Homo sapiens: one gene and its partner. The protein of the gene in region 1 purifies or fractionates together with the protein of each later gene. This does not show direct contact. Each region holds a gene or a part of one and is shown in the gene's direction. Other genes may lie near its edges.

Region 1 (3,900 bases):
CCCCCCCTTGCCAAGGACCTCCCTGATTGTATGGGGCGGAGTGGGGTGGGGGTGGGGGCTGGAAAGGGGAAGCCCACCCTAACTAAACGGAGGGGCGGGAGGAGGTTAAACTGAGGAAGCCACGAGCCCGCAGTAAAGAGAGGGCGATCGAGGCAAAAGGGTAGGTAACTTGGGACTTCTGTGCCTTGAAAGTGTTAAGGATTGCAGGGAATGCAGGCGCCTTTCATTTTACTTTGGGCACCCTCCCCTGGCTGGGCATTTAATGAGGAGTCCTACTGTGTGTGTTGAAACTCTGCATAATACCGTAAAATATTCTGGCCCTAAATTACACTCAACGGAGAGATTTAGGCAGATTACAATCCTAATTGGCCGCAGGGTGCTGGGGAAAGGGGACAGAGAGAATTGGGGGATCTGGAATTTGGTGTGCTATCACTACACCGCAGCTCTATTTTCCATTAAGAAAAAGATCATATGACGAAGTCGAACTAAGAGATCTGAAGTAAAAAATGAAAAGATGGAGCAAAAGTAAGAAACATACTCTGAGACGAGTGGGTTTTCCCCCTTTATTCCAACAGCAATCTTAAATGATGGACGTCATGTAGCAGTTATATATCTATGAACATGCATGAGAGATTTATAAATACCTGCATACATAAATACAAACATCCTATTATACATGAGAAATCGTAAATGCTTGGGCATCAGAAGTGGGAGCTGTGATCCTAGCTTGGGGGCAGCACAGGGTAGGCGGCCTTCTCTCTGCTTTGAGTGGCTTCTGGGCGCCTGGCGGGTCCAGAATCGCCCAGAGCCGCCCGCGGTCGTGCACATCTGACCCGAGTCAGCTTGGGCACCAGCCGAGAGCCGGCTCCGCACCGCTCCCGCACCCCAGCCGCCGGGGTGGTGACACACACCGGAGTCGAATTACAGCCCTGCAATTAACATATGAATCTGACGAATTTAAAAGAAGGAAAAAAAAAAAAAAACCTGAGCAGGCTTGGGAGTCCTCTGCACACAAGAACTTTTCTCGGGGTGTAAAAACTCTTTGATTGGCTGCTCGCACGCGCCTGCCCGCGCCCTCCATTGGCTGAGAAGACACGCGACCGGCGCGAGGAGGGGGTTGGGAGAGGAGCGGGGGGAGACTGAGTGGCGCGTGCCGCTTTTTAAAGGGGCGCAGCGCCTTCAGCAACCGGAGAAGCATAGTTGCACGCGACCTGGTGTGTGATCTCCGAGTGGGTGGGGGAGGGTCGAGGAGGGAAAAAAAAATAAGACGTTGCAGAAGAGACCCGGAAAGGGCCTTTTTTTTGGTTGAGCTGGTGTCCCAGTGCTGCCTCCGATCCTGAGCCTCCGAGCCTTTGCAGTGCAATGTCCCGCCTGCTGCATGCAGAAGAGTGGGCTGAAGTGAAGGAGTTGGGAGACCACCATCGCCAGCCCCAGCCGCATCATCTCCCGCAACCGCCGCCGCCGCCGCAGCCACCTGCAACTTTGCAGGCGAGAGAGCATCCCGTCTACCCGCCTGAGCTGTCCCTCCTGGACAGCACCGACCCACGCGCCTGGCTGGCTCCCACTTTGCAGGGCATCTGCACGGCACGCGCCGCCCAGTATTTGCTACATTCCCCGGAGCTGGGTGCCTCAGAGGCCGCTGCGCCCCGGGACGAGGTGGACGGCCGGGGGGAGCTGGTAAGGAGGAGCAGCGGCGGTGCCAGCAGCAGCAAGAGCCCCGGGCCGGTGAAAGTGCGGGAACAGCTGTGCAAGCTGAAAGGCGGGGTGGTGGTAGACGAGCTGGGCTGCAGCCGCCAACGGGCCCCTTCCAGCAAACAGGTGAATGGGGTGCAGAAGCAGAGACGGCTAGCAGCCAACGCCAGGGAGCGGCGCAGGATGCATGGGCTGAACCACGCCTTCGACCAGCTGCGCAATGTTATCCCGTCGTTCAACAACGACAAGAAGCTGTCCAAATATGAGACCCTGCAGATGGCCCAAATCTACATCAACGCCTTGTCCGAGCTGCTACAAACGCCCAGCGGAGGGGAACAGCCACCGCCGCCTCCAGCCTCCTGCAAAAGCGACCACCACCACCTTCGCACCGCGGCCTCCTATGAAGGGGGCGCGGGCAACGCGACCGCAGCTGGGGCTCAGCAGGCTTCCGGAGGGAGCCAGCGGCCGACCCCGCCCGGGAGTTGCCGGACTCGCTTCTCAGCCCCAGCTTCTGCGGGAGGGTACTCGGTGCAGCTGGACGCTCTGCACTTCTCGACTTTCGAGGACAGCGCCCTGACAGCGATGATGGCGCAAAAGAATTTGTCTCCTTCTCTCCCCGGGAGCATCTTGCAGCCAGTGCAGGAGGAAAACAGCAAAACTTCGCCTCGGTCCCACAGAAGCGACGGGGAATTTTCCCCCCATTCCCATTACAGTGACTCGGATGAGGCAAGTTAGGAAGGTGACAGAAGCCTGAAAACTGAGACAGAAACAAAACTGCCCTTTCCCAGTGCGCGGGAAGCCCCGCGGTTAAAGATCCCCGCACCCTTTAATTTTTGCTCTGCGATGGTCGTTGTTTAGCAACGACTTGGCTTCAGATGGCAGCTACATTTGATGGTTTGCAAATGCCGCCGCTGTTCCAAACTTCCTACGGTCCATATTGTTTGATGAAAACTTTCTGTTAAAATTGTGTCCTTTCCGCCCACCTTCTGCTCCCCCTTTAGATAGATACGGTATAATTGTAGGTACCCGTATATGGCATCATTATTCTAGTTCCCTGCTGCCAATACGCTGCTAAAACGTCGCATCTTCTCTGTCACTGGTTTGGGTTTAATTTATTTTACGCCCTGGGCATCCATCCTTGTGTGTTGCGCACTCAAGTGTGGGAGATTTAGTCTTCCGAAGTTGTTTTCCAAAATGCACAATGAAACGCAAAATTAGTGCTTCCAAAGTGGATAACTTTTGACTATGGAATTGTTAGAAAACAAGAAACTTTAAGGTTTATATATTGTATAAACATACCCAGTATGTGCATCCGATCGCGAGAACGTTGGCGTCTTTTAGGAAACTCCGCGCACGCACTTTATCAGCCGCTGCTGCGGTGGTGGCTCCAGGAGAAACTCAACTGCCAATTGCAGACCAGTTTTTTTTTTTTTAAACACAGCCACTTATAATTCTTAAGCTCTTTGCAAATGTTTGTTTAAAAAATGAAAAATTAAAAAAAATCTAGTAGTGTCAAACGCATTTGGTCAATTTTATTTTGCTTTGTTAATATTAGAAAACTTATTTATTATTGTTTGCTACCATTTCTACTTATCTTGATTCATTTTTTACGTTTTCTACTCGAGATCATTTTATTTTAATTTAGCAAAGCCAACTGCCCTTGTTTAATGTATTTTGTTTTGCAAATGATTAAAATAAATGTGAAAAGAAGCCTTTTGTCACTTATTCCTTGAGTATAACTACTGAAAACAATTTTCAAATGAATGACTTTGAAGAATTGAGTTAAGTCTTCTATTCAATGTCATTTATGCGATCTTACAGTTTTGAAGAAAAATGTTGTAAACTTGGTGCCTTCAGGTAGTATCAAAACCCCTTCAAAGAAAAGCACTCAAGTCAATAATTAAATTGTGAGATAAAACTTCTTCCAAATTTGCAGCACAGTTTTGCCTCTTTGATGGCCAGGATCTTCCCAGTCTTCTTTACTCCTTGCCCCAACAACATCTGCAAGGGGGGGAGGCCATAAGTTTTAGGTTTGCTAGAACCTAGCCTGGAGTAGTTAACTTTACCAGGGTTAGCTATGTCCACTCATAAAACCTACTCAAGCTGAAAATTTTTCACATAGGTCAAGCGCAGTGCACACTGTCTATGCCTCTCTCTCTCTCTCTTCTGGGAGAAGAAGACCAGAAGAGACAAAGATGATAACAGAAA
Region 2 (3,500 bases), on another chromosome or scaffold:
GGTTGGCCCCATCCTCTGGATGAGGAAATTGAGGCAGAGAAGGCAGAAAGCCCAGATCACGTGGCTATGAGGAAGAGCTGGAGCCAGACTGGCACCTTCTCCTTTGTTAAGAGGCTTTTTTTTTTTGAGGCAGAGTTTCACTCTGTCGCACAGGCTGGAGTGCAGTGGCGCGACCTCGGCTCACTGCAACCTCTGCCTCCCAAGTTCAAACAACTCTCCTGCCTCAGCCTCCCGAGTAGCTGGGATTACAGGTGTGCGCCACCATGCCAGGCTAATTTTTGCATTTTTAGTAGAGATGGGGTTTCACCATGTTGGTCAGGCTGGTCTAAAACTCCTGGCCCCAAGTGATCCTTCCACCTCGGCCTCCCAAAGTGCTGGGATTACAGGTGTGAGCCACCGCACCTGGCCTTTTTTTTTTTTTTTTTAGACAGTCTCTGTTGCCCAGGCTGGAGTACAGTGGCGTGATCTCAGTTCACTGCAACCTCCGCCTCCTAGGTCCAAGCGATTCTTTTGCTTCAGCCTCCCAAGTAGCTGGGATTACAGGCATGGCACCATGCCTGGATAATTTTTGTATTTTTAGTAGAGATGGGGTTTCACCATGTTGGCCAGGCTGGTCTCCAACTCCTTACCTCAAGTGATCCGCCCACCTCGGCCTCCCAAAGTGCTGGAATTACATGCGTGAGCCACCGCCTCTGGCCTGTTAAGAGATTTGATTAAGGGACAGCAAAGCATGCCTGTCCTAGGAGTGTGGGTCAGAAAGCATGTACCTCTGAGCACACCTGTATTGCATGCATCCGGGACAAGGTATGGAGGGGGTTGGACAGGCAATTGGGGCCAGGTGGTGAATAGCTTAGACTTCACTTAGGGCCAGACAGGAAGCCACTAGACCCTATCATTGAGCATGAAGGCCACCACTGACAGTAGGTTAGCAAATAGGTGTGGCTGCATGCCCATAAAACTTTACCAAAGGGGCCGGGCATGGTGGCTCACACCTGTAATCCCAACACTTTGGGAGGTCAAGGCAGGTGGATTACAAGGTCAGGCGTTCGAGACCAGCCTGGCCAACATAGTGAAACCCCATTTCTACTAAAAATACAAAATATTAGCCGGGCGTGGTGGCGGGTGTGCGTAATCCCAGCTATTCCGGAGGCTGAGGCAGGAGAATCGGTTGAACCTGGGAGGCAGAGGTTGCACCATTGTACTCCAGCCTGGGCGACAGTGCAAGATTCCACCTAAAAAAAAAAAAAAAAGGGCCGGGCGCGGTAACTCATTCCTGTAATCCCAGCACTTTGGGAGGCCGAGGTGGGCAGATCACAAGGTCAGGAGATCGAGACCATCCTGGCTAACACGGTGAAACCCCATCTCTACTAAAAATACAAAAAATCAGCCGGGCATGGTGGCAGGCACCTGTAGTCCCAGCTACTCAGGAGGCTGAGGCAGGAGAATGGCATGAACCCGGGAGGAGGAGCTTGCAGTGAGCCGAGATGGCGCCACTGCACTCCATCCTGGGCGACAGAGCAAGGTTCCGTCTCGAAAAAACAAACGAACGAAAAAAACACAAAAAACCTTTACCAAAGAAGGCAGTTGGCTAGTTGGCTATAGTTTGTCAACCCCTGCTCTCTAGAATATTCTCAGCCCCCGTGAGTTTCCCTCATACCCCTCCTGGTCAGTCCCCCACCAGTGATACCTCTCCTCACTTCAAACATCATGCATTGGCCAGGCACAGTGGCTCACACCTGTAATCCCAGCACTTTGGGAGGCCAAGGCAGGCAGATCACTTGAGGTCAGGAGTTCGAGACCAGCCTGGGCAACATGGTGAAACCCCGTCTCTACTAAAATTACAAAAGATTAGCCAGGCGTGGTGGTGGGCACCTGCAGTCCCAGCTATTTGGGAGGCTGAGGCATGAGAATTGCTTGAACTCGGGAGGCAGAGGTTGCAGTGAGCCGAGATCGCACCACTGCACTCCAGCCTGGGCGACTGAGAGAGACTGTCTCAGAAAAAAAAAAAAAAAGGACCCTGTCTGAGGCAGAATGTGTGTGTGACACGCATCGGTCGGGGAGCCTCGGGACGTTGCCTCTGACCGAGGGGGAAACTAAGGCTCCTCAGCACAGCAATGGGAGCCCAGTTTGTGCACTCCAACAGCCTTGACTTTAACCGCCCCCTCCACTTTCCTGCTGTGCTGGTGGGGGTGGGGGTCAGGCCCTGGCAGTGTCCTTAGGTGCGTCCACCCCTATTCTGCGACATTCCCTTCTGTCAAATCTATCTGGAGATGCAGTGGTAGTGTCCCAGGGGGACACTGCAGGTGTGGGGATCGTCCCTGGGAAGGCTGAAGGTGTGAGAGTCAGATGGTGGAGTCTCAGGCAGTGAGGGGGCAGGCAGGGGTGTCCGAGACCAGGGCCCTGCAGGAGTGCCAGGCAGTGGGCAGAGTACTGCCCTGAGCTTCCAGCAGCACTGCATATAAACCGTGGGCTTGCTCGGCCCCCTGGGGTCCGTGCAGGCCAGGGCAAGGGCAAGTCCCGTAGCCCAGATGTCCCTCATCCAGCCAGCATCAGGGCTTCCCTGGGCGGCCGATGTGGAATCAGTTTCAGCCTCAGTGACCCACGGCAGGGAAACGTGGACAGTGCTGCCCGACTCATAAGGGCAGAGCCCCTGCCCTAGCCTGAAACGGGTCCAGGCCTCCCACGGCTCTTAGAATCCAACATGAACCCCTCCCTGGCCCCCAGAGGCTCCGCATGGCCCAGCCGTCTCCCTCCCGGCCTCTTCCCCCTCCCGCTTCACTCCCACTCCAGCCTCCAAGCTGTTCCTGTTACAACAAATGGCTCCTGCCTCGGCGCCTTTGCACTGGTAGCCCTGCTGCTAAGGACGCTCCTGTTCCCCAGCTCTCCCCCTTGGCCGGCGCTCTTCGCACCTAGGAGCGTCACTTCTTCAAGAGCCACCCACCCGCCCTGTCCAAGGTTCCCCTGTTGGCCTCACATCCCCCGCCCAGGGCAGCACCGGGACCTATCTTGTTCCTGGTATGTCCCCTGCACCCAGCACAGAGCCTAAATCCTCGTTGGCTGAGATGAAAACTCGAACCCCAGGCTAGTGGGTGGCGCGGGGGTGTGGGGTCTTCTGCCTGACCATGCACGCCGCCCCCGCAGGAGGAGAAGGAGAAGCGGCGCCTCGACCAGCTGGAACGTAAGAAGGAGACGCAGCGCCTACTGGAGGAGGAGGACTCCAAGCTCAAGGGCGGCAAGGCGCCGCGGGTGGCCACGTCCAGCAAGGTCACCCGGGCCCAGATCGAGGACACGCTGCGCCGAGACCATCAGCTCAGGGAGGCCCCGGACACAGGTCGGGCGGCATCCCGCTCTGGAGCTGCACTTTTGCCCACTGCAGAGGCAGTGGACCTTGAGTCCATTAGCCCCCTCCTGGCCCCCAGAGAAGCTGCCGGGGCTCCACGTGGTGCAGGGTGGGTGGGTAGGCCGCCTCCTGGTAGGCCTGGCCGTGAGCAGACAACCTC

The links. Proteins that work in one complex are often made in the same cells at the same time.
Region 2: the proteins of ATOH1 (region 1) and CCDC124 purify together in Homo sapiens (affinity purification with mass spectrometry, with the first as the bait; one study listed by BioGRID). This does not show direct contact.

Annotation. Positions count from the first base shown.
Region 1 is NC_000004.12:93,827,565-93,831,464, forward strand, and holds ATOH1 (transcription factor ATOH1), read left to right. Parts: upstream 1-1,188; 5' UTR 1,189-1,362; coding exon 1,363-2,427; 3' UTR 2,428-3,400; downstream 3,401-3,900. UniProt on the Homo sapiens protein: Transcriptional regulator. Activates E box-dependent transcription in collaboration with TCF3/E47, but the activity is completely antagonized by the negative regulator of neurogenesis HES1.
Region 2 is NC_000019.10:17,939,515-17,943,014, forward strand, and holds part of CCDC124 (coiled-coil domain-containing protein 124), read left to right. Parts: intron 1-3,141; coding exon 3,142-3,331; intron 3,332-3,500. UniProt on the Homo sapiens protein: Ribosome-binding protein involved in ribosome hibernation: associates with translationally inactive ribosomes and stabilizes the nonrotated conformation of the 80S ribosome, thereby promoting ribosome preservation and storage.